Regions from separate parts of the Homo sapiens genome. Here region 2 is linked to region 1. The links come from fine-mapping of genetic effects on gene expression. A gene starts in region 1. The other region holds a variant in brackets. All regions are shown on one strand. Distances are between the middles of the regions.

The links. PIP is the estimated chance that this variant, and not a neighbour inherited with it, causes the effect.
Region 2: its variant is fine-mapped to the expression of COL5A1 in whole blood (TOPMed, PIP 0.92).

Annotation. Positions count from the first base shown.
Region 1 is chr9:134,633,483-134,649,335 of GRCh38, reverse strand. COL5A1 (collagen type V alpha 1 chain) reads right to left here and starts at 7,533. Exons shown (of 66, transcript NM_000093.5): 1 at 7,040-7,533. The coding sequence starts at 7,148. LOC124902300 (a long non-coding RNA gene) reads right to left here and starts at 1,282. Exons shown (of 2, transcript XR_007061842.1): 1 at 1,072-1,282; 2 at 1-945. RefSeq lists enhancers at 2-501, 1,226-2,025, 4,008-4,592, 5,848-6,554.
Region 2 is chr9:134,449,025-134,464,877 of GRCh38, reverse strand. All of the region lies in intron 1 of LOC105376311 (a long non-coding RNA gene), which reads right to left. Among named protein-coding and RNA genes, the nearest start is that of MIR4669, 78 kb to the right of the region's middle. RefSeq lists enhancers at 2,460-2,960, 7,476-8,412, 8,413-9,350, 9,694-10,529 and a silencer at 14,941-15,235. The variant C/T (reference allele first, on the strand shown) is at 6,880.

The sequences.
Region 1 (15,853 bases):
ACATTTACTGCTAATATGAGGTTATTACCTAGTTTGAGATTCCTCCAGAAAAACTCCTCTGCTGATAGGAAGCTGAGGGTGTGACGGCTCGGACTATCTGACATGGATAACTCAAAGTGACCCGCACCCCTCCACTGAGCATCCAGCCACCAATTCATTCATTCCACGGTCTTCTCTCCAGTGGCCTGGGGCTGGGCTGGCACAAAAACAACATCTGAGATGGCAAAGCCCCCCCCACACCCCGCCCGCACCAACTTCACCCACCCCTGCCTGGAACACCTCCTTTCAGTGATCAGCCACCACTCACCGCCATCACATCACAGAGACAGAACAGAGGCCTGCAGCTGGGAGGTGCACAGGTCCATCCACCTCCTGGACCTCCGTTCCTTGTAAAGAGCAAGTGGCCAGAGGAGGCAGGGGAGGGCCACTCTGCGGGCTGAACTTGGCCTGGCCCGCGACTGCCCAAGGATGCACCTTCCTGGCTCAGGCTCAGAGCCTCAGAGGCAGCGAGCAGCGAGCGATCCGCTGAACTGACCACTGGTGCTTACTGCCTTACCTTTTCTCCTGCGTACCCAGTGAGGGAAGCAGCAGTGTGACACCACACAGGATGGCAAGGGAGCACGCACAGGCCAGCGAGTAGAGGGCCCCAAACCACCTCACAGCCTCCTGCTGCACTGGGGCCCCTGGTGGCAAGGGCAGTAATGGGGTCTTACTCTGTGCTTTATATGAGTAATACATTAGACATCACTAAAACCCTACTGTAGTTACAGTCACCACCCCCTTCTTACAGATGGGGAAAGTGAGGCACAGGGTGGGAAAATGCACTGCTGGTAGACACTGGAGCCAGGATAGGAATCCAGGAGTCTTGCCGGCTGCCTGTCCTTTGCCAGCAGGCCACCCTGGTCCCTATGCCATGTCCTGGTGGCTGCAGTCCTGCAGTCCTGCCTATGAGCAGAGCTGTATTAGTCAGGGTTCCCTTAGAGGGACAGAACTAATAGGAATAGAAATAATAGAAATATATATATATATATTATATATATATATATAGGAGTTTATTAAGTACTGACTTACACAATCACAAGGTCCCACCACAATAGGCTGTCTGCAAGCTGAGCAGCAAGGAGAGCAAGTCCGAGTCCCAAACCTGAAGAACTTGGAGTCCGATGTTCGAGGGCAGGAAGCGTCCAGCACAGGAGAAAGATGTAGGCTGGGAGGCTGGGCCAGTCTCGTCTCTTCATGTTTTTCTGCCTGCTCTACACCTGCTAGCGGCTGATTAGATTGTGCCCTCCCGATTAACGGTGGGTCTGCCTTCCCCAGCCCACTGATTCAAATGTTAATCTCCTTTGGCAACACTCTCATAGACACACGCAGGATTAATACTTGTATCCTTCAATCCAATCAAATTGACACTCAGTAGTAACCACCACAAGGGCCGCTGTGGGCTCCGCCTGCAGGATCGAGGCACATCCACCAGCCAGGCCAGAAACTTTAAAACCGACACTTGGCAAAGCACTGAGAGAGAGCAGACGAGTCAATTATATGGGAGAATGTAAATAGAGGAGAAGCGGGAGCCATAATGTAACATCGCCCTCCCGGGAGTTTAAAAAGACATGAAATTGTCGGATCCAGCTGGACCCGGCTTGCCCTGCGGCAGAACCCACAGCCTCACGCTCAACCGGCAGGTTCCACGTGCCATCTCCTCCTCTCCCGTCCAGCTGGGGCCGGGTCACGGTAAGGAGAGAAACGTCGCCCTGCCACGAGCTCCTCAAACACACCAGGCCCTGCACGTGGAGTCAGCCAGGGACACCCATGTGAACGCAGGTACATGTGCAAGGATGCGCATGCGTGCACACTCAAACACACATGTATACCCACAAACACATGTGTGCAGGCAGATCGCGGGGAGATATACACATTGTCCACACGTGCACACGGCCTGACACACACACACACACACGCACACATGACACACATACACACAAACGCACACATGAGTGCAAACCCTGGAATTGGCTTCTAAAGCTTTTCACATGCATCACACCCCACGGCCTGGACAATGACCCCATGAGGTTCCGTGGGAAAGCAAAGAACCGAGGCCAAGGAAGGCAAAGGGGCAGCAGAGACCGGCTAAGCGGGCAACAGCAGAGCCCCAGGGGTCTCAGCAGGGCCAGGCCCCACACAGGCACACCTCCCTCGCCTGTGCTTCTGGGAGCTAAAGAGGGCTGTGGGAACACTGCTCTTTCCTCCTGCAAAACCACCACTGAAGATGGGGGCGATGGTAACGTCCCCACACAGCCAGTGCCGAGTACAGGTCAGGCAGCCTGCAAAGCTTCTCACAGGTGTGGCCTCAATCGATCTTCACAACCATGCCTCAAAGCAAGAAATGTGGTTCTCCCCATGTTCACGAGGGGAAGCTGAGGTGCAGTGACTTGTCCTCGCCCAGCCCATCCGACAGCCCCTCAGAGGCAGGGAAACTCAGCTCCAGCCTCACACCGACCTTGCTGGCCTGGAGTTCAGTAATCTGATTGCCAAGGAATGTCCCCTCCCACATCCGACCACCTGTCACCCAGCACAGGTACCCAAAATCACCCCCAGAGGCCCCCACATCCTAATCCACAGCTGTGGAGCTGTCTGCAGAGCTGTGCAGACTGGGCTCACTGTGCCAGGCCAGCAGGGCTCGTCAAAGGGAAACAGGAGGAACGGGGGCAGAGAAAGGGTTAAGGAAGCTGCCAGGATCTGCCACTTCCCTTAGGGGCACTTGTATTCTCCTGGCAAACAGATACTGGGAGCACCTGCCAAGCCCGTGAATGAGGGGCTTTCCAGCCAAGGGAGCCGCCCAGGAGAGCTCTGGGACACGGTGTGGAATGTCCTGTCAGAAGGAGGGAAGAGAGCAAGATTAAAGCCAGAGGTGGAGGAGGACCCCACGAAGGAGGGTCATTTCTGCAATAAAAGGAAGGAGAAGAGAAGGAGGGAAGGCCAGTTTCACATCACCTCCTCCAGGAAGCTCCCCAGCTCTCCCCAGTGCAATTAACCCTCCCAGACTGTCGGATGCAAGACCCAGCACATCCCATGGAGGGCCCTGAGTAAAATTCACAATGGTCTGCCTGTCAGACTGTGAGCTCCTGGAAGGAAACGAGGGGTCCCATCCCATTTGCCTCGGTCTCCCCAAGATAGGCCCGACCCAGGTGAAAAGGCAAAAGCCTTCAGGGTCCAGGCAGGTTATGCTGATGTGCAGAGAGGCCTGGGAAGTGGTGGAGACTGTGGCTGCTGCATCCCTCTTGAAGGCACTGGAGTAAAAAGAGAAGGGATGGAGGGACAAAGGGAAGGAAGGAAGGGGATGGGAGAGAGGGAGGGAGGAAGAGAGGGAGGAAAGAAGGAAGGAGGGAAGGATGGAGGGGGAAGGAGAAAGAAAGGAACTTAAAAGCTGTGTTGGCCAAATGGAATGGCTCTGCTCCCAGGACCCTGTTTGGACTGGGCCCCCAGGCCAGGACTATAGCTCAGGGCCCTGGCCTTCTCCCCGGGGAGAGCTGATAAACCGATGGGAAGTGAGAAGAGGGAACTGTGACAAGTCAAAGAGTGACCATGCCAGGCGAAGGGCCGTTGCTGGCTTAGGGCCCCACAGCAGGAATGGAAGACATCTGCCTGGCATCCCTGCCCCCTGACTCCTAGGCTCTGTCCCTTCTCAGGCCCGGGTGAGGGTGCAGTGAGATGGTGCAGCTGATGCTCACCACAGGCCAGGCAAGTGCCAGCCCCTCCATTCCCATGTGTGATTGTCTCCCAAGGCCATTCCCAGAGCCACGTCACGTGACCGAGCAGGGACAGGTCCTGCACTGTTCCAGATGCAGCTTGGCTCAGGCTCCTATGTGGGTGCCCTCGGGAAGTGTTGGGGACTCATCCTCGCCCTCCAGCGGGGCAGCTCACTGCTCTGCACAGCCCCTACTCCACCTATCAAGGTCTATCTCCCAGGAGGTGGGATGGGGCGGTCCAGGGAGGAGGCAGGGCAGGCAGACAGGCCAGGCAGCGAGAAGGCAGGGCGGGACGGGCAGCACCAGCTGTGTTCGGCTGAGGCGTGGCGGTGGGGAGTCCAGAAATATCTGCAGGGCGGGGTGAAGAGCAGGCTCTGGCCAGCCCCGCAGGAGCAGCCCAGGAGTAACATCACTGGAGAAACCACTGTGAGCCTGGCACTGGGAGCACGCCCCTGCCTGGGGCTGCCGCACTGCTGGGTGGGCACAGCCCTGGGTAGCAACCAAAACTCCAACCCCTCCGGCAAATCTGGACCACAGCAGGGAGAGGGCTTGGGGAATTCTTGGGGCTTCTGAGCTCCTCCCACTCACTGCTCTTTTATGGGGAGAGGGAGGGAGGGGGCAGAGGATGGAAAAGGATGTCTTTCCAGCCAACTTGATTGAGTCAGAGGAAATTTAACCATTTGATACCTGTCAAGTCTCACAAAACTTGGCCGACTCTCCCCACAAATTATTGCAAAAAGCAATCACGTGACTGGAGTCAACCAATGGCGTGTAGAGGAGATGACCTCAATTTCCAAATATTGGGGTCATGTTTCATTTCCCATACTCTCCTTCCCCGTTACACTGTTCAGCAGCCCCAAATGCAATCTTACTTTTCATTCCTTCACACACTTGGCCAAAAGAAAGCAGGCAAAAGAACTGTGTTCAGAAAACCCTCAGAAAACATCTGGCAGATCCGAAGATGGAGAAGACAGCAGGCACTTGCTGGTGGCTCCCCCCCGCGCCTGCCTCTCCAGTGGACAGCCGCCCCCTCCCCGCCACGCCTGCATTTCCAGTGGACAGCCGCCCCCTCCCCCCAGCGCCTGCATCTCCAGTGGACAGCCGCCCCCTCCCCGCCACGCCTGCATCTCCAGTGGACAGCCGCCCCCTCCCCCCAGCGCCTGCATCTCCAGTGGACAGCCGCCCCCTCCCCCCAGCGCCTGCATCTCCAGTGGACAGCCGCCCCCTCCCCCCAGCGCCTGCATCTCCAGTGGACAGCCGCCCCCTTCCCCCAGTGCCTGCATCTCCAGTGGACAGCCGCCCCCTCCCCCCAGCGCCTGCATCTCCAGTGGACAGCCGCCCCCTCCCCGCCACGCCTGCATCTCCAGTGGACAGCCGCCCCCTCCCCCCAGCGCCTGCATCTCCAGTGGACAGCCGCCCCCTCTGGCCATGCTCGAAGGATGACTTCCAAATAGGTCCCACCCTGGGAGGTGGAGAGACGTTGGCAAAACTCACTAAGAAAAGTGGTCTCTCCACATGCTTCTAAAAGTCTGTTCTGACAAAAGCAAAATGTCCAACTCCATAGCCTGCTGCTCTGGGCCATCCTCACTCCCACTTCCAACGAGCCGCACTTCGATTAGCGAGGGCAACCAGAGAGGGAAAAAGACAGTGTGGAGGTGGGGAGATGGGCAGGGAGGGAAATGGAACCCCAAGCCCAGTCCGGTGCATGGTCCCCAGGCAGTGCCCTGCCCCAGCTGTCTAGGGTGACGATTCCCCTGAAGGACTCCCTCCTGAGTTTCTGGGGAAAAGTCCCCAGAGGCGCTGAGACAGGGCCTAGTCCCCCGGCAATGGCACAGTCCCTGACCACACCTTCCTTCTCCTCTCCACTTTTCTGGGGACCTCTGTTGTCCCCCACCTTCAGCTAACCCCTGGAGAAACACAAGCCCAGTTAGCCCAGGGTCAGGAGAGAGTTGGTGGCGGCCCAGGGATGAGATCCCAGGTCCTGGGAGCCAGGCCAGGCTCCTGGCTCCTCCCCCAGAGCCCCAGGGCAGCCCCCACACCCAGACTCCAGCTCATCCAGTTAGCCCAACAAGCACTGATCGTGCCAGGGAAAAAGGAAAAGAGTGTTTTAATTGACAAGCGGAACACGGACAATGATTCTTCCCACTTGTCTTCCAATCGTGAAGCAGAGAGAAGCATTCTTGCTGGCAGGCGGCGGGCTGGTCCAGACGTTCGCTGAGCCCACCGTCCCATCGCTCTGCCCGCCACTTCTCCTGACCTGGCAGCACACAGCTCTGAGCCTCCATCTCCCCGCCTGTCAATAAGGATTCGGGGGACCTTCCAGGGCTGGGGGCTCTGATGTTCGAGAGTCTGTGAAAACCCACCCCGCCACTAACTACCAAGAGCGATGCCTAGAAAAACTCCCCCGTCAGGAAGCTGCGCCAGGGAGAGTTGAACCCTCGAGAACCCAGGCAGGGACGCAGACAGTCCCCGCCTTGAAGCGCCCTCCCCGGGAAGCAAGCCTCCTTCTAAGGGCTGACCCTTGGCAGAAGGAATCCCACATCTGCATATCATCCCAACCACTCACAGCCCCGCCTGCAAGCCCATCTCTGGCTTTGCTCCACGCATCCCATCTCTCAGCAGCGAATCCAGGAAAAGCTGCCTTCCAGGGATCAAGAAGTTTGGGGGTGGGATTAGGAGCAGGGCTGTCTACCACCCTGCAGGGGTCCCCAGTGCCCCCGAACACTTAGGTGACCAAGGCTGCAGGAAACGCTGTCCCTGGGGAAAGCAGGGCGCCAGCTCAGCCTAGAGTGACAGTGCCTGGGGGAAGTTCAGTGCTGGGGGCCCAGGCTTCTGGGATTCCCCCCATCCCCAGGAGTCCCGGGATTTGAAGGGCTGTAACTCTAGGGGGCGGCCCTGCCCGGTTTGGAGCAGAGGAAGTTCTGCTGTAGGGCTGTGAGGGCCCAAGCTGGGCGCCTGTGATGTGGGACAGAGAAGGAAGGTTTTTGGGACAAAAGTTTGCCCGCCTCGTGGACAACCCCTCCTGCTGATCCAGCCCTCGGTCCTTCCTCGGCTCGCGCGACAGCCCCACCCGACCCGCCCGTCTGGGGAGGGGGCGGCGGCGCGCCCGCGGGCATTGTGTCTGCGTGTCGTCATCTCGGGGGGGCCCCCAGCAAATGGCATTCGTGGTCTTGGCCCGTGCATTCCACAGGCCAAGGAAGAAAAGTTCTGCGGGCGAAGGCGCCCGGGGATGACAGCGGCGCCCGGGCTGCGCGCGCCCCATCCCGCAGCCCCGCGCCCCGGGGCGCCCTTACCTGCGCGGCTCGGAGGCGGCGCCCACAGCAGCAGCAGCAGCAGCGGGGGCAGCAGCGGGGCGCCCGGGCGGAGCGCGCTGCGCGCTTTCCAGCGGGTATGGACGTCCATGCCGGCGGGGCGCGGGCCGGGGCGCACAGGGGCGCTCGGAGGCGCGCGGGGACGCACAGGGGCGCGGGTCACGGCCCGGGCAGCGCACTCAGCAGGGACCGCACCACTTTAGGAGGTCATGGGGACCTCGGCACCCCCCGTTCTTCTTTGTGGCGGCGGCTGTTCTGGAAGGGGCGGCTGGCGCGCTCGCCCACGGGCGGGAGGGCTCGACTTTGGCCCGCGGGGCGGCCGGGACCCCGCTGGGCTAGCTCGCCCTCGCCTCCTCCTCCTCCTCCTCCAACTCCTTCTCGCCTCCTCCTCGCCGCCGCCGCCCCGCGACCCGCTCCCCGTGGGCGCTCCGCTCGAGTGAGGTCCTGCGCCAGCCGCGGGGACGGAGAGTGCGGACCTCGCCTTCGGCGCGGAGCACTTTTTTCCCCCTTTTCCTCCCTCCCTCTCTCCTGGAAGGCAGCCGCGGAGGCTGTCGATCCCCAACGCCCGCAGCAAATCAGAGCCCGGCGCTGGGCTCGGCGAGGCCAGCCCCCGCCTCCCACTGGGCGCCGCGGGCGAGGGGGTGGGGACAGCGGGCGAGTCGCAGCGAGGAAGGGGCTGGCCCGGGGCGGAGCGGACGTGGGGCGGGCGCGGCCCCCTGTTCTTTCTCTGAGAGCCGGTAGGCGGGCGGGCCTGGGGCGGCCTCGGAGCCCAGGGGCCCACCCTGGTCCCCCCACTGTTCCCACCCCAGGTGCCCGCACCTGGCCATGCTCCAAGAACCAGTGCAGAGGGGCCCCGAGGTTTGATCACTTCGGGTTAAAAAGAAAGTTGCAGTTTACCCCGCCTAACTTTTTCTTTAACGTGGAGGAGTTCAGAGCTCCTCTTCTGGGTGGAGACTAAACTTCCCATCCAGCCAGATCAGGGCGCCCAAGACTGTGGCCTACGTGTCAACCCGGACCGAGGACCTGCCTCCTAACTGCAGATTGGCACGGGACCGAGCTGGGGTCTGACTTCCCAAGAGCTCCCGGGACCTCCATGTGCTTGGACGGGAACATCTGGGTTATTAATCAGGCGAAGTTTGGCTCTGCGGCCCCCAGGCTCTCACCCCTCACTCCTGCCCACTCCCTGGTGGCCCCTCTGCAATAAAAAGGAAACCAAAGAAGGCATCCCCTTGGGAGTGACAGCTGGCGCAGGGAGAAGGCATTCCTGATCGGCTGCTCTCGGAGAAGAGCTGGGGCCCTGATTCTCCTGCCTGGCTTCTTTAAGCCCCTCGGGGTCTCCTCCAGCAGGAGGCCCGCCAGTCTCTGGGTGGTAGGTGGGCGTCTCTCCCTCCAGCTTCCCCAGGCCTGGCCTCCCTGCACAGCCTCCTGAAGCCTGACCCACACCCCTTCCCCAAGGGCTGCAGGGCTAGTTTTTTAAAAGGAGGGAATCAGAATGAATTAAGAACGATTTGCAAACCCTGGGCCATCCCCATTCCCTTTGAACAAACAATTTAGCCAGAGATGCCAGACAGGGCTGGGACTCCCCTCTCCAGTTACATCTCCAGACTGGGCGTGAAATTCCCCAAATGCTCTTTAATTCTCACCATTCTGGAAACAGGAGGTGAGAGAGGCGTCCGAGGTTAGGTTTGCCAGGATAGCCATGGCAGGCTCCGGAGCTGGGTGATAGGTCGCTGTTGCTAACTTGGTGATGAGGCTTTTAGTCTCCATATCTGCCACATGCGCTTGCATAGATATCAAATATTTCGCAGGAAAAGAATGAGAAGCTCTTCACACACAGACGTGGGGAGGTGCTTGAGATACATTCAGTAAAGCAAATGTTAGTTCTGACCTGTTTCCTTGTTGATTTTATTTTGTTTTACAACTTGTATAAGGCATATGTGATCAGGCAAAAATGTGTGTGAGTTGTGTGCATGTGTGTGTTTGTGTGTGTGCCTGTGTGCGTGTCTGTGCGTTGGTTAACCTGCAGCCACTGGCCCTTTACTTTCCCTGTGGACTTCAATGAGTGAGAAATTCCATCAAACCCCAGACTCCGCGCCAGCCCCAGCTGTGCTTGGTCCTTGGAGTGCCCCCGCCCCTACCAGCAAGGCCAGCTTCACCCCTGAAGACTAGGGGTGCTGACACAGGCCATGGCCTGGTTATCAGAAGAGAGTGGAGGCTTTCTGGTTCCAGCTTCTTTTTCCCCAAGCACAAGTGGAGTTCCTTTCTGACAGTCCCATGTGCACATCCGTGCCAGTCAGCAAGCCCTCCTGTAACTCACAGCCAGCATCTAAACTTTGCCCTGAATTAACACAACTGGCGCCTTAAGAGCTGACACTCAAGTGACCACCCCAAGGTCCCCCAAAAGTTGACTTCTCAGCAATGGTAAGATGGCTCAGTCTTGCAGCTCAAGCAGCCATGACAGATGCACTTTATCCTCTCTTGGAGAGCAAGTGGTGCGGTGGCTTGGAAAGCTGTCAAATGTGAGTTTCCACCCTCATCTGAGCCTTGAGTTGGGTGGAGAGATGAGTTTCTATCCCACCAGGAAACTCAGAGAGAAGTCCCCAAACTTGGCGGCCTGATGTGTCAGCCAGGGACTATGGCAGAATGGCCCGGCAGTACCAATCAGGATTCGAACTGTGTTGCCAAGCTAAGAATATCAGCCACATCTTAAGGCTTTTGCCTCACACTCTTCACCCACACGTGCATCAGTTCTCATGCACCGGTAGGGAATACTGGCATCTCTCCCATCCACAGATGAGGAAATCAGGGGCCACAGAGGGTAGGGGACTTACCCAGTTCATCCGTGACAGGGTCCGGATTTGGACCCAGGTCTCCATGCTTGGAGCCCAGTGTGCACTGCCTGCCTCCCCATGGCATCCGGACCACACGCCTGCCGCCAGGACCACCCTGCCCAGATTCAGACAACAGCAACTGGTGCAGATTGTCCCAAACTCACCATGTTCCATGCCCTCCCACAACTGAGCAAAACCAGAGTCCTTGGAAAACTGCTTATTGCGCGCATACTCCTTGCCAACACCGCTCTAGGCTTTAGGGAGTATGTGGTGAGCAAGGTGCCTGGGTCCCTTCCACATTGACCTGCAATGCAGCAGTGACTCCCACGCCCATGCAGAGGTGGCCCCTTTTTTGCATGTGTGTCTTCCTTGTCTTCTGCTATCCATCGTTTCCCATCTAGCCCTCCCCGGCTGCCTGCTCCTGTTCATGGCACTCACCGCAGAAGGCTAACCAGGTCCTGTACCCTGTGTACTCCTGGGCCACCGGGAGCGCCACCACCCATCACTGCGTGTTTCCCACAGTGCCTAGCAGAGAGTGGAGCAGGCCAGGTGCCCTGCACCTTACACGTGGAGTCCGATGGCCCAACTTCTCCTTCCAAGGCTGTGTTTCCTCTCATTTATTTTTCGAGCGGCAGAGCTGTGGTCCGGACAGAGCGGCCATGGCAACCATCAGGTGTTGCTCTCATGTGGACCTGATGGTTCACCACCAGTCCTGAGGGGTCACACCAGCCTCCCAGAGTCACGTCTGGCTGGAAAATGGCCAGCTGCTTCCCAAGACAAAGGCCTTGAGGGGCAGCCAGATTGTCCCTTCTTCTTCTCCTAGACCCATGGAGGAGGTGGAGGAACAAGGTCTTCTTGGAGTGCCTGGAGGCAGATATCTGCTTGCCCTCTAAGCATTTATGGTCCAGAGACTGCTGAAGTGGGCCCAGGAGGGCCTGGGTGAGCCACGGCCTGGCAGAGGGGCTGGAAGCTGCCCCACTCTGTCCCATGCAGGGGAGGAGTTCCCTCTAGCTGCGCAAGGAGAATGCTCTGAACCTGCATCCGGCACCTGGGGCTGCAGCTGTGTCCTTCAGCTGATGTCCTGGGACCAGGCCAACTCCAGAGTCACACAGACTTCCGTTAGAATCCCAGCAGCACCAGCCACTAGCCACATGACCTTGGGCAAGAGGATTCTGTCTCTGAGCCTCAGTTTGTTATCTGTGAATGGGCGGTGAAGAAACTGACCGCTGGGGGGTCCCTGTGAAGCTCAGATGAGAAGGTAGGTGAGGGAGGCCTGGCCACAGTCCCCTCCCTCCCTGCTCCCTGCCGCTGGGCACTCATCCTCTTCTGCCTCCTCCAAGCCCCCTGCCGCCTTCCAGGGCTTCACCTGCTTACCTGCATCATCTCATTCAATGGAGCAACAACCCTTTGAGGCAGGAGGAAGCTGAGGCTCGGAGAGGTGAAACTATTTGCTGGAGGCTGAACAGCAAGGGTGTGGCTAAACCCAGTAGCCCGGAACGCAGCCCTTAACCACCGTGCAGCCTGCACACCAGCAGCAGAGCAAACCAAGGAGGCGCCGGGTCCGAGGGCCGGCCCGCGGCTGACCGCATGTCCTGCCGGTTCCAGGGGCCCAGACCCCCACTGGCCCTAGTTTACCTTCTGACCCATTGGCCTTGACCACTGCTCCATGTGAGCTGTGGCTTCTCAGCAGACCAGAGGCCACCGCTGTGCCCACAGAGCCAGCAGGACTCTCCCTACGTACTGGAGCGGGGCAGATGGGAGGGAGCCCCTTTCAAGCCAGCACTCTCTTTGAAAAATTACTTGGGGAAGGCCGCCACTTTAAAGCCCTTGGACAAAGCATGTCCTTCATTGCCTTGTTTTTGCAGCCTTCTTCAGCCTGTGTCTGCCAAGTGGAGAGTAGAGGAGAGGGTGAGAGAGGGGCCGGGGCCATGCCCCAGGTCACCAGGCTTCCCGGGTGTGTGAGTCAGCTCGGCGGCCACAGCAGAGTGCCACAGATGGGGCAGCTTAGACAGCAGGGATTTATTCCCTCACAGTCCTGGATGCTGGAAGTCCGAGGTTGAGGTGACGGCAGCACTGGTTTCAGCCAAGGCCTCCCTCCTCGGCCTGCAGTCGGCACCATCCCCCCATGCCCTCACACGGTCATTTCTCTGTGTGTGTCTGCGTCCTCATCTCCTCTTCTTTCGGGAACCCCAGTCAGTTGGATGAGAGCCCACCCTAATGATCCCACTTAAACTTAATTATCTTGTTAAAAGCCCCATCTCCAATCACAGCCACATTCTGAGAGGCAAAGCTTCAATGTACGAATTTTAGGGGGACACAATTCATCCCCCTAAAACTGGATTCCTGCAAAACAGTCCCAGTCCGTGGGCCTTTAGCAGAAATCTGAGGATTGAGGGGCTCTGTTTTCTGGCACAGTAGAGACTTTTACCCACCTAGGTGCTCTCTTATTGTGGATTCTCACACCCCAAGGCGGGGGCAGGGGTGAGGGGTGCAGACTCTGGCCAGTGGCAGGGGACCCTGGCCAGTGGGAGGGGACTCTGGCCAGTGAGAGGGGACCCTGGCCAGTGAGAGGGGACTCTGGCCAGTGGGAGGGAATTCTGGCCAGTGGGAGGGGACTCTGGCCAGTGAGAGGGGACCCTGGCCAGTGGGAGGGGACTCTGGCCAGTGAGAGGGGACCCTGGCCAGTGAGAGGGGACCCTGGCTTCTGATGAATGTGTACCACCCTGTCTCCTTGTCCCTCTAGCACATAGGCTGAACCTCTCCTCGGTGGCACTGTCCACCATGGGTGTGAGAGTGGGGCCAGCTGGAGGGCCCAGAACACCAGTGCAGATGCAGCATCTCCTCCAAAAGGCTCCAAGCCCACTCCAGAGTCTCCTCTCTTTGCTTCCCTCCCCACAGCAAATTGCCCTCCCCTTTCTGTGAGTGAGGTGCCCCTGCCCATGCTGCCTGTTAGGAGCACATTCTGTTCTGGATATGAAGGTGTGCATGTGAATAAGTCAGTCTTTGGGACAGATGTGTCTGGGAGCAGGTGTGCATGGGAGCAGTGGTGCACAGGGGCAGGTGTGTATTGGAGCAGGTGTGCATGGGGCAGGTGTGCACTGGAGCAGGTGGGCACAGAAGCAGGTGTGGCTTGGGGCACACAGTCAAGCATGGTAGGTGGGGGCACAGGCCTTGGGACACTGTGTAGTCACATCTGTGTATACCTCTGCTTCCGGAGAAGCAGCCGTGGGTCTGACCCCAGTCTCCCCAGTCCAAGCCTGCAGCCTGTGCTCCATCTAGATGTGGGTGAGAGGGGGTGGGAGGGGGTGAGAGAGGGTGAGAGGGGGTAGGAGTGGGTGGGAGGGGGTGAGAGGGGGTGAGAGGAGTGAGCTGGGAAGAACCCAGGCAGGCTGTGGTCCAGTGAACTCCAGGCCCCATGATTCCATTGAAAATGCAATCCGCTGACTCAGTGGTTTACTTGAAGCCCTTCCCCCGCACCTGAACTTCTACCACTTTGTGAAGCTGAAGCCTCTTCCTCTTCCCCAACCCTCAGCCTTCCCCAACCCAGAGTCCAGCAGAGGAGCTGTTCTCCTCCCAGAGCTCCCATCCCGGGACACCACGGTGCCAGGACCCCCAGCCCAATTTATCAAGCCACACAAGCAGGACCAGACACAGCTGGCCCTGGCATCTGATCAAACATATACACGCAGCTGGAGGTTGGAGGCGCTTTTCATCATGGCGGCTTCTCAAGCATGGCGGCTCATGCTCTTTATCATGGTCTGATGGAGGGCCAGGAAGCAGGGCTCTCAGCAGCTGAGGGGCTGCCCCTCCTTCAAGCCCAGGGACAGAGCAGCATAAATCACCAAGGGATGGAGCCGTGACATCGATGGCTGAAACAGCCTGGCTGTCCCTTGGCTGCGCCTGGCCCTCCCATCTCACTGGCCCTCCCATCTCACTGGCCCCGCTCCGCTGTGCGGCACAGCTCTGTTTCCATGTCATGTCCACGAAGGCCTGGTTTTACTGGACCTGGATATCCCATCAGGTGCCAAGTAAACCCTGCAAAATAATGGAATTTCCAGGCGAGAGAGCCCATGACGAACACCAAACAGACTTTAGATATATAGAGTGAGTTCGCAATTAATTCGGGCCACAGTGTGCCAAGGCACATTTCCAAACTGGGCCTGGATTGGCGTGTCATCCTCCAGGAGAATATATTAGAGATAAAGGTTGAGTTTACAGCCCAAAAGAAATGTCAGTTGGAAAGGTCCCCGCTATTAAATCTTTTAAAGAACCATCTGCATAGGTGGAAAGAGATGCCTCCCACTCAATGGGCTGTTCCCCGGGAGTCAACAAGATCACCCTGGTGAAACAGCTTTTGAGGGTGTCTGTGACGATTCCCCACCTAGGGATCTCACTGAAGCTTTCCCACCATCCGACGAAGGTGAGGGCAGGCATGACCTCAGAATCTGGAGCAAGCGGCGTCCTGGATATGAGTCTGCCTCAGCAAGGGGCCTGAGGCTGCAGCCTCCCCACGCTGGCTCAGGTTCTCCTCTGGAAAGTGGGGACCGCAGTGCACCCCTGCATAGGATGCTGTGGAGGTTATCCGAGATAACACACAGACTGTGCCGGGCACAGAGCACAGGCTCAGAAAAGGCTCCATCCGTCCTGCTTCCGGCAGCTTCATGATCGACTGGGGAAACAGAGTCTCAGAGGGTGAAACCACTTAACTCGGAGGTGTAGGAATTGGAGACAGCCCCACCCCATCTGGGCACAGAGCTCTTTCCATGACCAACTGCCCCAGCGACGCTCCAGGACGCCACGAGCATAAGGCAGTGGTACCAGCAGAAATGCCTGTTAGCTGAAGGCTTTCTCAAAAAGTCAGGAGCCAGTGCTCCACACTGTGGAGGGGGGTTGGCCCAGACCCCCTCAGGGCCCAGACTCCCCTGGCCTCTGTCAAGAGCATGGTTTGCTGACAGCCAACAGCTGAGTTCCTTGCCTAAACTACCTTTTACTGGAGGTTAGACCCCATCCCTGCTCAAGGGCAGCCCACACCCAAGGACCGGTCAGGAAGAAGGTTCCAGATCCTGTCCCTTTTCCTGAATGTGGGACAACTCAGAAGGGCCGTCCCTGCTTCCGAGTCCTGCGGTCGGGGGGCTCCATGAGGCCTCTGCAGAATGCATGCACCTGCGCCCCGGCTTGCTGCCCTCGCCCCCACAGGCCTTGTTTCCAGAGTCCGCCTAGAAAACCCAGAGCCTCAGAGTCAGCTACCAAGGACCCTGACATAAACACTGTCCTCCTAGACACTTCTCCCTGCAGACAGGGGTCAGCAGGGCCCAGGTTCAGGGCCCAGGGGTTCAAGAAGTAGGGACGCTTGTGGGAGCACGTCCCAAAAGGATACAAGAGGAGGAGGGGCATCTTGGGGCCAGGTGCCACCCCTCACTGATGCCATCCTGGACTCTTCTCCCCCTGCAGAGGGAATGCACATGCCCAGGCCCAGAGGAAGCCACAGAAGGCCACTCCAAGGAGGCTGTGATGGAACAGGGAGGAGGTGGCCTGGGGGCTGAGGGGCTGGAGACAGGAGGGTGGAGCGGCTGGCACAGGGACAGGAGAGCGGGGTGGCTGGCACAGGGCAAGTCAGTCTAGGCAGGGAGTTTGTATTCTTCCCAAGGAGAATGGGGATGCGTAGAGGGTTTTAAGAGGAGAAGGCTATGTCATACTTGCATCCTGGAAAGATCTCTGACTTCAGTGTTGAGGATTGCTTAGAGGAACAAGAGGTGGGGCTCAAGTCAGAGGCAGCTATGGTTTCCAGGGAGAGGGGAGACGGGTGGGATGCCTTCCAGTACACGGTGGAGGAGGAATCGGCTGGGACTCGCCAGCAGCAAGGGCAGCGGTGCCCAGGACCCCGCCCAGGCTGTGCCTCTCATCATTTGAAGGCCTTTGCCTTGGACACTGTCAGCTGCAGAGTGCACCTCTGGCCAGGCCCCCG
Region 2 (15,853 bases), 180 kb after region 1:
TGTGGCGCAGAGTGGGCACTAATGGGGGGGAGGCTGGGTGAGCGGGGCAGAGGCGCGTGTGGTGCAGAGTGGGCACTAATGAGGGGGCGGCTGGGTGAGCGGGGCAGAGGTGCGTGTGGTGCAGAGTGGGCACTAATGGGGGGGAGGCTGGGTGAGCCGGGCAGAGGCGCGTGTGGTGCAGAGTGGGCACTAATGGGGGGGAGGCTGGGTGAGCGGGGCAGAGGCGCGTGTGGTGCAGAGTGGGCACTAATGGGGGGGAGGCTGGGTGAGCGGGGCAGAGGCGCGTGTGGTGCAGAGTGGGCACTAATGGGGGGGCGGCTGGGTGAGCCGGGCAGAGGCGCGTGTGGTGCAGAGTGGGCACTAATGGGAGGGGGCGGCTGGGTGAGCAGCGCAGAGGTGTGGGGAAGAGCTGAGGCATGACACCGGGGCCTCCAGGAGAGGCAGAGGCTGCCGGCTCTACCCCCAAGAGGCCGGCAGGACTCCCTTCCTATCCAGGAAGCCCCATGATGTCCCATCAGAGCTCATGACACCGATGTCATCCACAAGAGCTGGCCCCGGTGAGTGTCAGGTCCTCACAAGTGAGAGACATGGCCAGGACCCCCACAATGCCTCAGCTCCTACCCCATGTGCTCACCAGCCCTGGCATCCCCTTGCCCAGGAGGGGCACAGAGCATCATAAACCATCCTCCATCTCCCCCACTGTGTCCTCCACAAAGGACTCAAACTTCCAGCACAGAACAGGAGCTCTGCCTACAGCGGGGTCTCCAGGAGCCGAGGCTGCAAACCCAGAACTAACTGGCCACCTAGGTCCCAGACTGGCTTCCCCAAGGCCCAGGAAGGAGCCCACCTATTGGTGTTGACTCTGGAATTGGGGCCACAACTGAGGAAAAGGGCCTTGTGTATTTTCTGTGGCCATGGGGCTGTCAGCTTGTGTGCTCACGGGGGTTCCTCCTCCCTGGCCCCAACACCACCATCACAATCTCCAAAAATGCATCTAAGCTGTCACCATGGCGTCCACCCTGATGCCCACTGGACATCTACACTGGGCCAAGCCCTGGGAACAGGGAGGGGAGGCCGGGGCCCTCAGGGACGTCACAGCCCAGTGAGGAAAGTGGACACCTGCATTGCAGCTCCAAGGGGGCAGGGGGATGGGGGGCGTGCAGAGGGGCCCGCGACCCAGCCAGGGTCTCTGGGGTCTCAGCCCTGCTCTGAGGGATGAGGAAGAGAGGACCAGGTGGAAGGGAGTCAGGAAAGGTTTGAATTAGAAACTCTGGGGACAAAACACCCAAAGGGGAGGCGGCCCTGCTGAGGCGGGCATCCAGGGACAGAGGAGTGGCCCGGCTTGCCCAGGGCTGGAAGGCGGGCTTTAGGCCCCAACTCTGTGCTTCACCTGGAGGGTTTCCAGCTGAGGAGTGACTGGGTCAGACTGGCAGCCCGCTGTGGGGGGAAGGGCAGATCTCAGAGGGAACCTGGGAAGAAGTGGGCAGACCAGGGACACTGCAGCAGCTGCAGGCTTCCAGGGCATTGATGGCCTCATAGGAAGGTGGCCGGGGGACAGGTAGGAGGCAGAGGCAGCCCCCCAACCCCACTTCTTCGTAGCCAGCAGAGACCTCCGAGCACCGGCGCCCTCTAAAGCCGAGGTCAGGGGCCAAATGGACCTAAAGTGGGAATCCTCCTTTCTCCTTTTCAAACTTTTTATTCTTTTCTACTTAAAAGGAGCTTTGAGTGACAGGGAATGAAAACCATTACCGTGGAGACGCTGGGGACAGACTCTAGACCTGCAACCTACACAGATGTAGAATCTTCCAGAGGTGGGGCAGGGCCGGGCAACCCACCCACAGACTGATGCCAGGTGGCCCAGCTGACCAGAGGCCCCCATCCCACCACACCAGCAGCCCGTTTCACCCACAGTGCAAACCTCCTGCCTGTCTGGGCTTTTATGGTTGAGTAGTTGTAAAGGATTATGTTTTCCCTTCTTCCAGCACAATTGTCACCTTTGCTCTTCAAGCTGTCCTCTGTCTTGAGGCAGAAAAAAAAGGCACCAAGGGGCTCTATAACTGACATGTCCATAAGAGGAGGAGGCAGAGTTCAGCCGCGACAAAGAGACAGAAAACGCATCAGAAACCAACCAGCCCACAAGGACTCCCGTGTGCCCCCCAACCACGAAGCCTGGGGCACGAGGTGCTGGCAGGAGTCCCAGGTGGGGCTGAAGCCCTCGCCCTACCCTCCTACCTCCGAGCGGACGCCACCCCATGCTCTCCCACCCCCACATCTCTGCACTGGCTTCACTCCACAGCCAAGCAGATTGCGTGGCCTGAGCCTCATGATAATGGGTCCACCTCCCGGATTTTCCTGTCACAGCCACTGACCACGGCCTGCAGTTGGGAGGTGTGTGCCCTCCCCCACCTCTGTCCTCTCTCTCGGTCCTCTCCAGCTCCTCCCACAGCCAGCATGGCCGGCACACCTCTCCCATGGTGGGGGTCAGGGCACTGATAGGCCACACAGCCGGCTGTTGGTGTGGTTATGACAGCCCCCATTGCCACAGCTTCAGCCCCGCCCAGCTGCTGTGCTTCAACCTCCAGGAGAAAGTTCCATCAATACTCTCATTTTACAGATGAGGAAACCAAGGGCGGGGAGCTTTGTGATGAGTGCGAGGCCACACAGTGGGAATTAGAACGCATGTCCTTCTCACTGTACACTCCGCCCAAGCTACAAAATGGCCCACGCAGGCCCTTCAGAGTTCAATGAGCTCCGTAACCCTGAGTTGAAGGCAAGCTGGGAGGCCTGGGGGCTCAGTTCAACTCAAGCACTGACCAAACTCCTCCTGCAAATCAGCCCCAGGGGTCCCGTTGAGAGGAGCCAGGCATGTGAGAAAATGGGCCATAGGGCAGTGCTGCAAGAGCCATCTCGGAGAAGGGCCACATTGGGACCTGGCTGGGCCACAGCTGGCAATCTGAGGGGTCAGGTGACCACAAGAACACTGTGGACATAACAATGCATGACTCTCAAGTCTGGCTCCTTAATGGCGTGGCAGCTTCTGCCTTGGCCTGCTGGATCACTTGCACTGGGGGAAGCCAGCCTCCATGTTGAGAGGATGCTCAAGCAGCACTGTGGAGGCAAGCAGCGTGCCAGCCTCGTGGTGTGCCACCTTGGAAGTGGCTCCTCCAGCCCTGGCCGACATTCAGATGACGCAGCTCTGGCCAACATCTGGCCGCAGCCTCTTGGGAAACCCCAAGGCAGAACCACCCATTGACTAAGCCATTTCCAAAGTCCTGATCCACAGAAACTGTGAGTGATGATGAATGATTACTGCTATTTTAAGCCACTAAGTTGTGGGGTGGTTTGTTACATAGTAACAGAGAACTAAGAGGCAGACCCTGCACAGCCCTTCTTGGCCTAAAGAAAGAAGGTGGAAGATTTTCACCAGGATGCAAACCTCGGGCATGTGTGGCACCTTTCACTCATGTGTCTTTTCCCATTCAGCCCCCCATGGGCACATGGCTGGAGCCCCCTCCCAATGTGGGGCTCTTGGAGTAAGAGTGGGGTCTTGCTGTCCTCTCAGGAACTCCGAGGACCCTGTGACAGGATGATGTACACAAAGGATGAAGTAGCAGGTCCACAGCCCTCTAGAGAGGCTCAGAGCAGCCAGGTCAGGAGACAGCACCAGCAGAGGGAGGGGGAGAAGGCCCCCAACCATGGAGCCACAGGCCTTCCTTTACCGCCCTGCCCAGCCCACAGCACCCCGCCTCCCCACAGGCAGAGGGATAGGCAATGAAGTGTGGGCAGACTGTCTCATAAAAGTCACCTACCTGCTGACAGCCACACCCATCCAGGACTAGGCTGAACAGCCCTCTAACGAGCAGGACAGGGCTTCTCTGAGCTCAGGGAGCTGCTCTGTCCAGCTAAGGAGCTCCAGAGCCTGTGGTCCCGTCTCCTGCAACCACCCGTCATGCCCTGGTCACCTATTGTCTCAGCTTCTCCAGGGAGGGCCTGAGGCAGTTGTTTGTTTGGCAAAAGTGCTTGACACCTTCCAGAAGGGGGCAGAGACCCCAACACAGCTCCCCACATAGGTGACTCCTGCTGGGTGAAGGCTTCCAACAGGCCCCAGGGCGCCCTTCACAATTCCTCTTCAGAGAACCAAAGCCCCACTGAGGTCCCATAGAATTTTAGAATGTAAAAGGGGCATGCCCCTTGGACCCAGCAACGTCGCTTCTGAACTCCATCCAGGAGAGCACCTGCCGAATGCTGGACAGGAGTGTTCATGACAGCACCAGCTGGTGACAGCCCCACAGGGAAAACAAGCAAAATGCCCAGCAAAGTGGCGTCCAGCAGGGCCCAGGAGCACCATTAGAAAGAAAAGCAGCTCCATGCACAGCCTCCAGGAAGGAGGGCCCGATGCTTGCACGTGAAGGAGAGCCATCGGCAGAAGCGCATACTGGAGTGTTGGAAACCGAGTGTATCGTGGGAGGGGTAGGTGCTGGAACATTCCAGAAGAATGAGCCCCAACAGCAGAAAGGCCAGCTGAGCGAGGGCATCATCAACTTTAACCGAGCCCTCCTCCGGAAGTTTCCTTCTCATGCACACGCTTCTCAGTGCAGATACCAAGAACAGAGCTCATCCTGGCTGATAATCAGGGCGCTGGGTTTGAGTCTGGACTCTGCCCCAACCTGCTGCATGACCCTCAGCTGACATCTTCCCTTTTCTGGGCCTCAGTGTCCCATCTGTCACCCAGAAAGTCTCCTGGAGACAGGACCCCAGAGGATTCAGTGAGCATCACGCTCCATCCTAGGGAGTGGGTGGTGGAGTCCCTTCCGAGGAACTCATGCCTGCATGGAGGGCACACGGGAGGGGCAGAGAGGCATGTGGCATCGGGCCTCCCCATCCCCAAGGGCCGCAGTTAGGCCACAGCTTCAGACTCAGGCTCGATTTTGGTCACAGGGGCCTAGAGGTCAAGCATCCTCCAGCATCTGGGAAATGTCCTCCGTGGGTAACGGGAGAGGTGCACAGGGGCTGACCCCGAATGACCACCAGGGCCAGTGAAGTGCTGTGAGAGCCCCGCTAGGCCCACGGTGCACACAGGGCAGAGCCTTGAGGGGCGAGGCCTCCAGCGATGAGGGCCACAGAGCCAGCAGGAGGGAGGCCCAGCCAGGACAGGCCCAAGAGATAAGATTTGTGTTCCCTGAAAGCCTAGAGGACATGGCAGTCAGGTGTGGACGACAGGCAGGATCCACAGAGGTAGGAGCTCAGACTGGCAGGGCTGGCTCAGACGGGCTTCCTGGAGGAGGGGTTGGGGTTGGGATGGTCACGAAGCCGCCCCTGTGAGTCCCCAGGTCCCTTTCGTAAAGCTCTCTTGGAGAAAATTCACCTTGGGCCCTTCCTAGCTGCACCCATACCCAGCCTCATGACTCATGACCCATGAGGTTGTCCTATCTGCCATTCTCCCTGACCTCACCCTGCCCCCGCCACATGCTGCAGGGAGAAGAGGGAAGGGAGGTCCCCAGCTTGGCCGCAGACTTCTGCTTTCCCAGTTGACACTGACCCACGTTTGACCACGGCAGATCCTGCCCCACAGCCCAGGCCCACCTCCAGTGCACAGCCTTGAGCTCCAGAGCCGCCATCCTGGTCTCCCATAGGGAGGGATGAGGCCTTCGAGGGGTTCAGGGCAGGCTTCTGACTGACCTGTTTATGGCCAGTGTCGCCCAGCGAAGAACTAGCTGGGGGTCACACAGGCCAGGTGGGTGCCTCCCCCACCAGCTGTTGGGTCAGAGACCAGGGCAACCCCTGAGCAAGTTTTCAGGGTGGCTTCTCCTAAATTCAGCAGCACCTGCAAATTCCCAAAAGATGTGCCAATTTCGCCTGGATTTCTGCAGGCTCCGGGAGGATGATGCGCGCCACTCCCTCCATATCCCGCCCCACCTTTCCCTTAAAGAGTTAACAGAGACCTGGAGCCCAGCGTCCCATCACAGCCCAGTCCTTGCCATTCAGCGTCTAGCCTCACCCAGAGCCCTCACCCTGGCAGAAGGCAAAACTCAGGCTCAGAGGACAGGCACTTGCAGGCTGGGACTGGGTCCAGAGTCTGGCTGTCCGGTCCCTGCCTGGAGCTCTCGGCCCATCCAGGCCAGTGGAAAGTCCAGCAAAGAAGTGAAGCAGCCCCCACCAAACCCTCAGCAGGCAGTGGGAGGGGACAGAGAGCTCCCCGGTAAGCAGAGAGCCAGCAGCTACTTTCCATGGAAAAAATGTCTTAAGGTCCCCCCAGAGGCCAGGAGGCCCCAGCCATGACTCAAGTCTCTGCTGCTGAAGAATCGCTCCCGACCAGACAGCCCCTCGGCCCAGGCAGGCTCCACCCCACCCCCAGCTCCCATCACACCAAGGCCCCATTCCAGGCAGGGCCCCAGTGTCAAACCCCAGGGCCCCACCGCAGGCTCCGTGGCCCTCTGCATCTCACCCTGGCCATGGCGGGAGCCATGGGGCCTCGACAAGCACAGGCCCTGCTGCTCAGGCCCGTCTGCAGAGGCCTCAGCGGCCCACCTGCAGAGTGGGAAGGGGGTCTGTGGGGGGGTTCCCCGTGGGCCTTAAAAGTCCACCAGAGGCTTGACCAAGGTGAGCCCAGAGGGAGGGTGCAGGCCTTGGCCCCTGGTAGACTGAGTGCCAGAGGGCAGGGCCTGGGTCTCAGGGCACAGCACCAGTCAGCTGTCAATAAACACCGGTGGATGCGACTCCGAGGCCTCCGGCAGACACGCTCGTCCACACCATGGAACTGGGCTTCCCCTTCAGGCTTCATTTCAAGGCGTTTCTGAGACTACACCTGGAGATGACAGGACACTACACCACAGTCCAGAGACCCTGTCTGTGACGGCCTCAAGGCAGAAGTACTTGCCA[C/T]GTGGCAGGCAAACCCTTCCTGCCCTGGGGGTCCCCTTGCACTAAAAAGCCTCAGGGGTCTGGGGCAGGTCTGGGAGAGGCTGTGTCCTTCGCCCAGAGGCCTGGGCTCCATCAGGGTGCAGCACTGTCCCTGGGAAGCCCTTGGACTCTTGGGCAGAGAAGCAGCAGAGAGAACCACCCCAGCTCCTGAGATTTCAGGGCAGGCAGGACCCAGCTCAGGATGACCCCAGGGCAGGAGGGACAGAGATAGTGACCAGAAGCTGGGGACACTGTGAGAGACACAGACCCCGGCCCCACCCCACAGGACACAGAGGGACACAGACCCCGGCCCCACCCCACAGGACACAGGGGGACACAGACACTGGCCCCACCCCACAGGACACAGAGGGACACAGACCCCAGCTCCACCCGACAGGACACAGGGGGACACAGACCCCAGCCCCACCACACAGGACACAGGGGGACACAGACCCCGGCCCCACCCCACAGGACCCAGAGGGACACAGACCCCGGCCCACCCCACAGGACACAGATGGACACAGACCCCGGCCCCACCACACAGGACACAGATGGACACAGACCCCGGCTCCACCCGACAGGACACAGGGGGACACAGACACTGGCCCCACCACACAGGACACAGAGGGACACAGACCCCAGCTCCACCAGACAGGACACAGGGGGACACAGACCCCGGCCCCACCACACAGGACACAGAGGGACACAGACCCCAGCCCCAGCTGACAGGACACAGGGGGACACAGACCACGGCCCCACCCCACAGGACATAGAGGGACACAGACCCCAGCTCCACCCAACAGGACACAGAGGTACTCAGACCCCAGCCATACCCTACAGGACACAGGGGGACACAGACCCGGGGTCCACCCCACGGGACATAGAGGGACACAGACCCTCGGCCCACCCCACAGGATGCTGGGACGATGGAGACACCCAGCCGCATGCTACAGGACACTGTGGAAACCGCTGATCCTGGGGCCATTGGAAAGCAGGGAGCCCTGAGGGCCTGGCCATGGCCCCCCTGCCAGCCCGGACCCCCATAGCTCTGCCTTGGAGTGGAAGCTTAGCTCTAGGCAAGGCCGGGCCATTTCTGTCCAGGAGCCTGTGGGGTCAGATGGGGTAGATGCAGGCTGAGCAGGGGAAGGCACAGCTGGAGCTCGGAGGGCGATTGGGGACAACCCAGCATGTCCAAAGTTAGGGACCCCCTCTCCCAGCTACAGCTTCCCTCCTTCTGGGAGAGACCCCTGTTGGTGGGCTGTCGGGCTGGAGCATGGCCGGCAGCTGGCCCGAGCCATGTTTCGTGGGGTGTGTGTCACCACGCAGTCCGCGAGCTTCATAGTTTCCCACTGACGTCACCGCATGGCTAGAATGTGAAGTGACTGCAAACCCTCAGAGGCATAATTGCAGTTGTCTTTGCAAAGTGAAATCAGATGGCTTTTGCAAACCTCCCCCAGCCCTGCCTTCTCCCCGCGGCTCTCCCTTTTTTTTTTATTATGTTCCTTGGGCCACATCCAGATGTTTCCTGCAACTACAACCCTCCAAAAGTTACACAAAGAGAGCGAGAGCGTGCAGCTTCCTGCCTGCAGGGTGGAAGTGGCGACGTGGCAGGGTGGGGGCGGCCACGTCTACAGGGTGGGCGGGGGCGACCACGTCAGCAGCTGGGGCAGCAGGCTCCAGGCAGGTCCCAGCCCCCTGCCTCCTTGTGCCTGGGGTCTGGGCGCTGAGAGACAAGGCCGGAGGGCCACGGTGCATGAGGGACAGCCCCTTCCGGCCGCTGCGGCCCTGGCCCAGCAGTGGGCCGAGTGGAGACCGCGGCCGGGAAGGAGCAGGGCACCTCGGTCAAGATCAGCCTTTGGGTTCGGGCTGCTCCGGGCGCCACTCCCAGCTGCGCTACTTACACGTGTGGCCTGGGAGCCACGTCTCCACCGGAACCTCTGTTTCCACGGCGATAGGGGTGGTTGCTGGGAGCTTTAATTAAAACCAGTCTCTGTCCACTGCTGGCAGCAGGGAGCGCCTCACCTGGACCCAGGCACCTAGGACAGGTGTGGTCTCGGAAGACACAGCAGAGCCCGACACGGAGGGGCTTACAGGGGAAGGGCCTTGAAGGAGGCCCAGGGTTTCCTGAGGCACAGGCAGGGAAGGGGGGCCGAGGCGAGGAAGCGGCTTTATCAGAGGCCTGGCAGCTGGGCACAAACGCCGTGGGGGCCCAAGGCGTCCCTGAGAGAGACGCACGTGAGGGTCTCTGGAGAAGGAGGTCCGCCATTTCCAGGGAAAGGGGACACCTGTAGGTTTCCCCTGCGGCATCCCTCTGTCCTGTCTGCCTCCCTCGCCCAGAGGATTCCCAACTGTAGGGGGCAGGCAGGGCTGGCTCACGCCTGACCTCAGTCCACAGCCTGTCCCTCTCTGACCTAGGCCATCCCTGGGTGTAGGCACAGTCCCTGGTGGGCAGAGCTGGGAACGTGGACAGGTGGAGACAGGTGTCAAGGCCAGGCAAAGGCTCAGCAAAATGTCTAGAGGGGGTAAAATGGCCCCCGAACCTTCCAAGGGCTGTTTCAGAAATAGGACTTGAAAGTTCGTAGTCAACCCAGGCTGACACCTCCTCATCACCTGCCTTCAGAACCCATCCATGGAAATGCTGACACTGCAGTTCAGGGTCCCCAAACCACCCTCAGGCTCAGGGACGTGCTGGACTGGCTCACAGAACTCAGCCAGGCAGCGATACCCGAGGTCAGGGTTTAGCGCCGTGAAAGGACATAGCCTCGAACCAGCAAACTGGGCATCTCTAGAGGGCAGGGTTTAGGGGAGACCAGACTCCAGCACCCAGGGGTCTTCTCTCAGTAGAGTCGGGCAGACGATGCTCAATTCTCCCAGAATGGTGTGCACCAGCCAGGGGGGCCCAGCCACGCCTCGGGGCTCAGGGTTCCTACTGGGGGTCCATCGCAAAGACATGCCTCACTGCCCGTGTGCTTGGCCTTGGTCTCATCCCCAGGATGATGAGCCGATACAGCACAGCCCAAGGTCCCACTGTAAATGACATCATTAGCGCGGTCACTAGGGTGGCCCAAGACCCCCAAGCAAACACAGACACTTATCACGCAGTATATTTCAAGTGGCTAGAGGTCAGAGGTCACCTCCCAGGAGCTAGGCCAGAGCCAGACCTTTCTTTGGAATGTGCAGGGTGTGGACAACTCAGGCCTGCTGAGTTAACCCTTTCCTGCACAGTGACCAGAACCCACCAGCACCCCACTGGGAGGTGATCAGCTTGAATGAGTCCCGACTGAGGCAGGAGAGGGGAGGAGGCGGAGAAAACCACAGACAAAATTACAGTCCAGTGGGAGCCAGGGCAGCTGGCGTCACCTCCATTTTACAGATGATGTGGGATGGAGGCAGGAAGAGGGGTTATGACGTGCCCAGGTCACAGAGCCAGCCTGGGATGGTGCCAGAACCCCACCCTGATCTCATGCAGCTTGCTCCTGTCACCCCTGGCCCCGCCTCTTCAGCAGTGGAGGAGACAAATGGGGCCTGGCCCATGCCTTGACGGGGGCCCTAGAACTGGGGGCCTGGTGGTGGCTGCCTCCTGGGAAGTATCGGCGTCTCTCTTGAACTAAGGTGGAGCTTGGGTTTTGAGAGCAAGCGCTCTTTGCAGTGGCCACGTGCTGGGCCCTGCTCAAACCTCTTCGGACTCCCAGAAAGAATGAGGTCGGGCCCTTTCCACCCTGAAATGTGCAGCAAGCATCTGAGAAAGGGGAGGGCAGTGCTAAACCCTCAGGACGGAGCCCAGCGGCTGTGATCCCGGGCAGCAGGGAGGCAGTGTTAGGGGAGGGGGAGGCCTCCTTGCTGCCCCCACCAAATCACACGGACCATAGGGTGTGGATTCCAGAACAACTCCCTCTTTCCACAAAAGGGAAAGCCGAGACCTCGAGTGAGCAGAAAGGATGAGCCTGTGGTCACACGGAGCTTGTCCCAGGCCGGCCGCTCCCATGCTGCTGCTCCCATGCCGCCGCTCCCAGGCTGCCCATCCAGCTAAGGATGTCCCTGACACGGGTTCCTTTGGATTCTTCATAGAAACATTTTGGAAGATTCATGTCTAAGGGTTTTAATGAAAATGGCAGCTTTCCAGGCTGGTCTTGGATAGCAATCGTGAGCAGCCCCGCCGGCCAGTGCTCACCTGGGGCCCCAACCACTCGGGAGGGGGAGGGGGCATGTTGAGTCAGCAGCAAGAGAGATTGCAGTTAGACCTAAGAAAGTCCACCCAAGTGAGAGCCAGATGGCCATGCCTGGTTATAGACAAGTTTCAGGAGCCCCTCCACAGCCCCCCACCCCAGCACTTCCTCCTATAACATGCAGGTACAGGGCCTGGAAGTTCACAGGCACACGCACAGTAGCCTAAAAGCCTCAGTGATCTCGGGAAGTCCTCATAAACAGTGGTTGGACCAGGTGATACCGTCCAATGGTCTGGCCAGCATAGCTCAACGTTTATGGACTCTTCGGCACGCAGGCACCATTCTGCCCTCCCAGGCCGATAACCAGAAAGGCATGCCATGATTCTTCCAATTAGCTTAATTGGGAAATTGGTTCCATGTGGTCTCAAGGGCCACCATCTATGGGAGAAGGCAGGTCAGCGGGACAGCGAGTCTCCCAGCACCAACCCACAGAGCCCCCACCCAGAGGGAGCTTACGGGCTCAGAGCAAGGAGCCTTATTCCACACCTCCTTTTCTCCTTGTACTTCCAACCCCACCATCTGGGGTGGAGCTCTAGCTCATGGTAGATGCTCTGAAAACCGTGGCTGTAAGCAGCTGGACCTCCAGGCCCCAGTGTTCGTCACTATAAGATGGGGAAACGTCAACACTGGCCCAGGGGGCAGGAATAAGATGATTTGAACCATGGGTCTATAAGGAGCACCTGGTGGGGAGGTCATTAAAGGCCCTTGGTTTCTTCAAGCTGACCTGGACCTTCATGAGCCCTACTTGGGGCACCAGGGAATTGGGAGATTTTCTTTTCCCTATTTCGCACCTGAAGAACTCCTGTTCATCCGTCAGTGCCCTGCTCCAGTGCTGCCTCCTCTGGGAAGCCATTCAGCCTCCTCTACCCATGGTTGCCTCTCCTCCATATTCCCATCGCACCTTGATTATGGCCTCCTCATGGCACAGATCAGCCCACATTTGCTGCCCACATGCAACACCATGAGAATATTCTAGACCTGCACTGTCCAATGCACAAGCCACTTGCCACATGTGGTTTCGAGAGCCTGAAATGTGACCTGTACAAATTGAGATGTGCTATAAGGCTAAGATAAACACCAAATCTCAAAGACTTGCCACCAAAATATGAATGTAAAATATCTCAATAATTGTTATATTGATTGCATGTGGAAATTATAATATTGTTTATGTATCGGGTTAAATAAAATATTACACTTATTTCACCTGGTTTTAGTGTGGCTACTAGGAAATTTTAAATTAATTACATATATGGCTCACATTGGATTTCTGTTGAACAGACTCTGCAAACTCTGCTCTCTCCTGGAGCCAAGTACAGGACCTAATCCATGCAATTTCCAGTCTGTATTTGCTGAATGAATAGGTGGATGGATGAATTCTGGGTGGGTGGGTGGATGAGTGGATGGATGGGAGGGTGGATGGATGGATGAATAGATGGGTGGGTTGGCTGGGTGGATAGATAGGTGACTGGGTGAATGGATAAGTAGACAGATGGGTGACTGGGTGGGTGGGTGGATGGATGGATGAATGGATGGATGGATGACTGGGTGAGTGAATGGGTGGTTGGGTGGATGGATGGGTGTGTGGATGGATGGATGGATGGATGGATGGATGACTGGGTGAGTGAATGGGTGGATGGGTGGATGAGGGTATGTGGATGGATGGATGGATGGATGGATGGATGGATGGATGGATGGATTGGTGGGTGGGTAGGTGGATGTGGATGGATGGATGGATGGATGGATGGATGGATGGATGGATTGGTAAGCGGATGGATGGATGCATGGATGGATGGATGGATGGATGGATGGATGGATGGATGGATGGATTGGTGGGTGGGTAGATGGATGGATGGGTGAATGGATGGGTGGATGGGTGAATAGATGGGTAGATGGATGGATGGATGAATAGATGGATGGATGGATAAATTGGTAAGCGGGTAGATGGATGGATGGATGGATGAATGGATTGGTGGGTGGGTAGGTAGATGGGTAGGTGGATGGATGGATGGGTGGGTGGGTGAATAGATGGGTAGGGAGATGAGGTGGTGTATGCACAGGGCTAAACACCATGAGCCTTGCCTTGGAGCCTCTGATTCACCATGGTACACCTGTGCACTTGTGAAATGCAGACAACTTGTGAAATTTACAAAACCACAGTTCCCACCTCTTGGAACTACACCCAATTTATTCATGTGATCAGCCCCAGTGGGTGCCTGCCTTGGAGTCTCAGGGGACCTGGTTAAGAAGATGGGAAGCTCTAGCCAGCAAGGAGTGAAGAGGTTTGCAAACACACTCTTGACCAAGCCTAAAGACTAAATCCAGACCGTGCTCAGGCTGGATTGGGCCTGAGGGAGGGGAAGACTGGGAAGACTGGGAGCTGGCCTTCTTCTCAGGGAGGAGTCTATAAGGCAGAGGAAGGGATGGAGGGAGAGAGGGAAGGGAAGGAGGGAGCAAAGACACAGGCCAGGCAAGCCTCCTGAGCAGGAGGAAACGTTTGTGAAAGGTGAAAGAGGCATTCGAAGGGGGATTGAGAAGAAGCACTGGAATTGCTGGATGTCTGGGCGATACATCCAGCAATTCCAGCACATGTCTGCCTGGGCAACATGGAGAACCCTCAGCCCCAATGGTCCCCGCCTCATCACCAGCCTCTCTCCCCATGTGTCTCTGTGTTACTCTTTGCACACCTCAGTTCTCTCCTGCCTCTGAGCCTTCGTATATGCTGTTCCCCCAGCCTGGGATGCCTTTCCCTGTATTGCTGTGTAGTTGTGCTATAGACAGAATATCTGTGTCTCAACAAAAGTCATGCATTGAAATCCTAACCTCCAAGATGATGATGTTGGGAGATGGGACCTCTGGGAGGCTCTGCCCTCATGAGTGGGATGAGCACCCTTATAAAAGAAGTCTCTGAGAACTGCCTTGCTCACTTCTGCCATGTGAGGATGCAGACAGAAGCAGCCAGCTCTGAACCAGCAATGGGCCCTTGCCAGATACCAAATCCGCAGGTGCCTTGATCTTGGACTTCCAGCCTCCAGGACCATGAGCAATAAGCTGCTGTCTGTGAGCCACCCAGCCCAAGTGGACTAGGACAGGTCGGCTTCCCGTGGAGGCCCCACCTGCCATGCTGTCCAAATCAGCAACCCCACCACCACCTCCCACACTCACTGCCTTCCCCATGACTTGATTCCTCACATGCTTATCTGGGACCAAGGGCTCCAGCTCCAGATGCAGGCATCCACCAGCCTCAAGGCCAGGCACCACAAGCAGGCCCCAGGCATGCCACTTTCTCCCCTCTGTCTTCCTTTGACCTCAGAAGGCACCCTCCTGAGGCTTCCTGCAGTCTCTGGGGACAACTTAGTTGTGTCCCAGTGGGGTTCAACTCATTAGAATTCATAGTCGCTTTGTAGTTGACAAGGTCTGCTCCAGAAGGACCACCACAAATCTCCCCTGGGACTAATCAGGGCAGATGTCCCAGGCACCACACTTCCATGCTTCTGAACCACAGTGTTCTGCATCCCCTCCCTCCCCTCAGCAGCAAGCAGGGGAAGGGCACTCTCCCCAGCCCATGAGATGGGCAGCAGGCAAGGAGGGGTGCAGGGGCTCTGCCTGGGGAATCGCAGAAGCATCACACAGTTCTCTGCCTTCACTCCTGGCCCTGAAAGCCCCTTCTCTGTATTTTGCTCTTCATTTCCAGAGCAGGATGTGGGAAACACAAGCACTGGAGGAAAAGGAGGACCCTTCAGCTAAGACGGAATCAGGGATGTTCATATGCGGGTCCGTCCCTGCTTCTACAGCCCGCCACGGTCCATTCTGGGGCAGCATCTTGGCCCCTAAGCATGGGGACAGAGAGCAAAAAGGCAGCATCTGCAAATCAAACTAAGCAGCATGTTCCAGGGCTGGGCAAATGGGAGAGGGAGGAGCCGGGAGGTGGTTGCCAGGGAAACATCAGAGCTTAGCCAGTCAGCAGGGGCCACCAGTTTGGTTGCCGGGTGCACTCTGCAGGATGACACTGCCCTCAGGTGGTGGATAGGGATGCTGACAGCCACGGCACCAGGGACCGCTATGTCCTGAGCCGATGGAGGCACCTTAGGATGTTTTCCCCTCGCTCTGTGTATACTAAAGATACCCAAGTAGGGCTGACCCTGCATACAGCTCCCATGGCCTCTCTGGGGGAGCAAGCTGAGGATATTCCGTTGTGATGAGGTTTCACAAGCATCCTGACCTCTGGGGAAGTTGCTTTTGCCACAGTTCCCATCAAGTGTTGCCCTGCATGCCAAGGAAACAGAGCCCCTTGCAGGGAAGACAAAGGGTCCATGAGATGCCTCCTTCCTTGAACATGACAAAATTCAGTGCTGTCATCCACATAATTCAGCGGCAAAGATAGGTTTTACTGAATTTCTTCAGTAAGGTATTTTCGTTTTCTAAACCCTAAAACTTGGAATAATTAGAGGTTGCCACCCAGTGGGGACTCAGAAAATTGCAACCCAGCTTTATCAGCTGTTGTAACTCTCCAAACAAAACCAAGGTCTCTGCCTATGTGTCGGGGGTGGGGTGGGGCAGGGTGGGTGTTCAGGGACTGGTGGAGTTTCTAGAGCCCCAAGAGGGGTGACATGTCCAACAGAAAGAAACCACCAAATTCCAAATTCAGGAGGACAGTGGAACAAAGTCTGCTGGCCTTGGACCTTTAAGCTGTCTGCCTTCCCACACCCTCGCTTTCCAACTCACCCAATGAA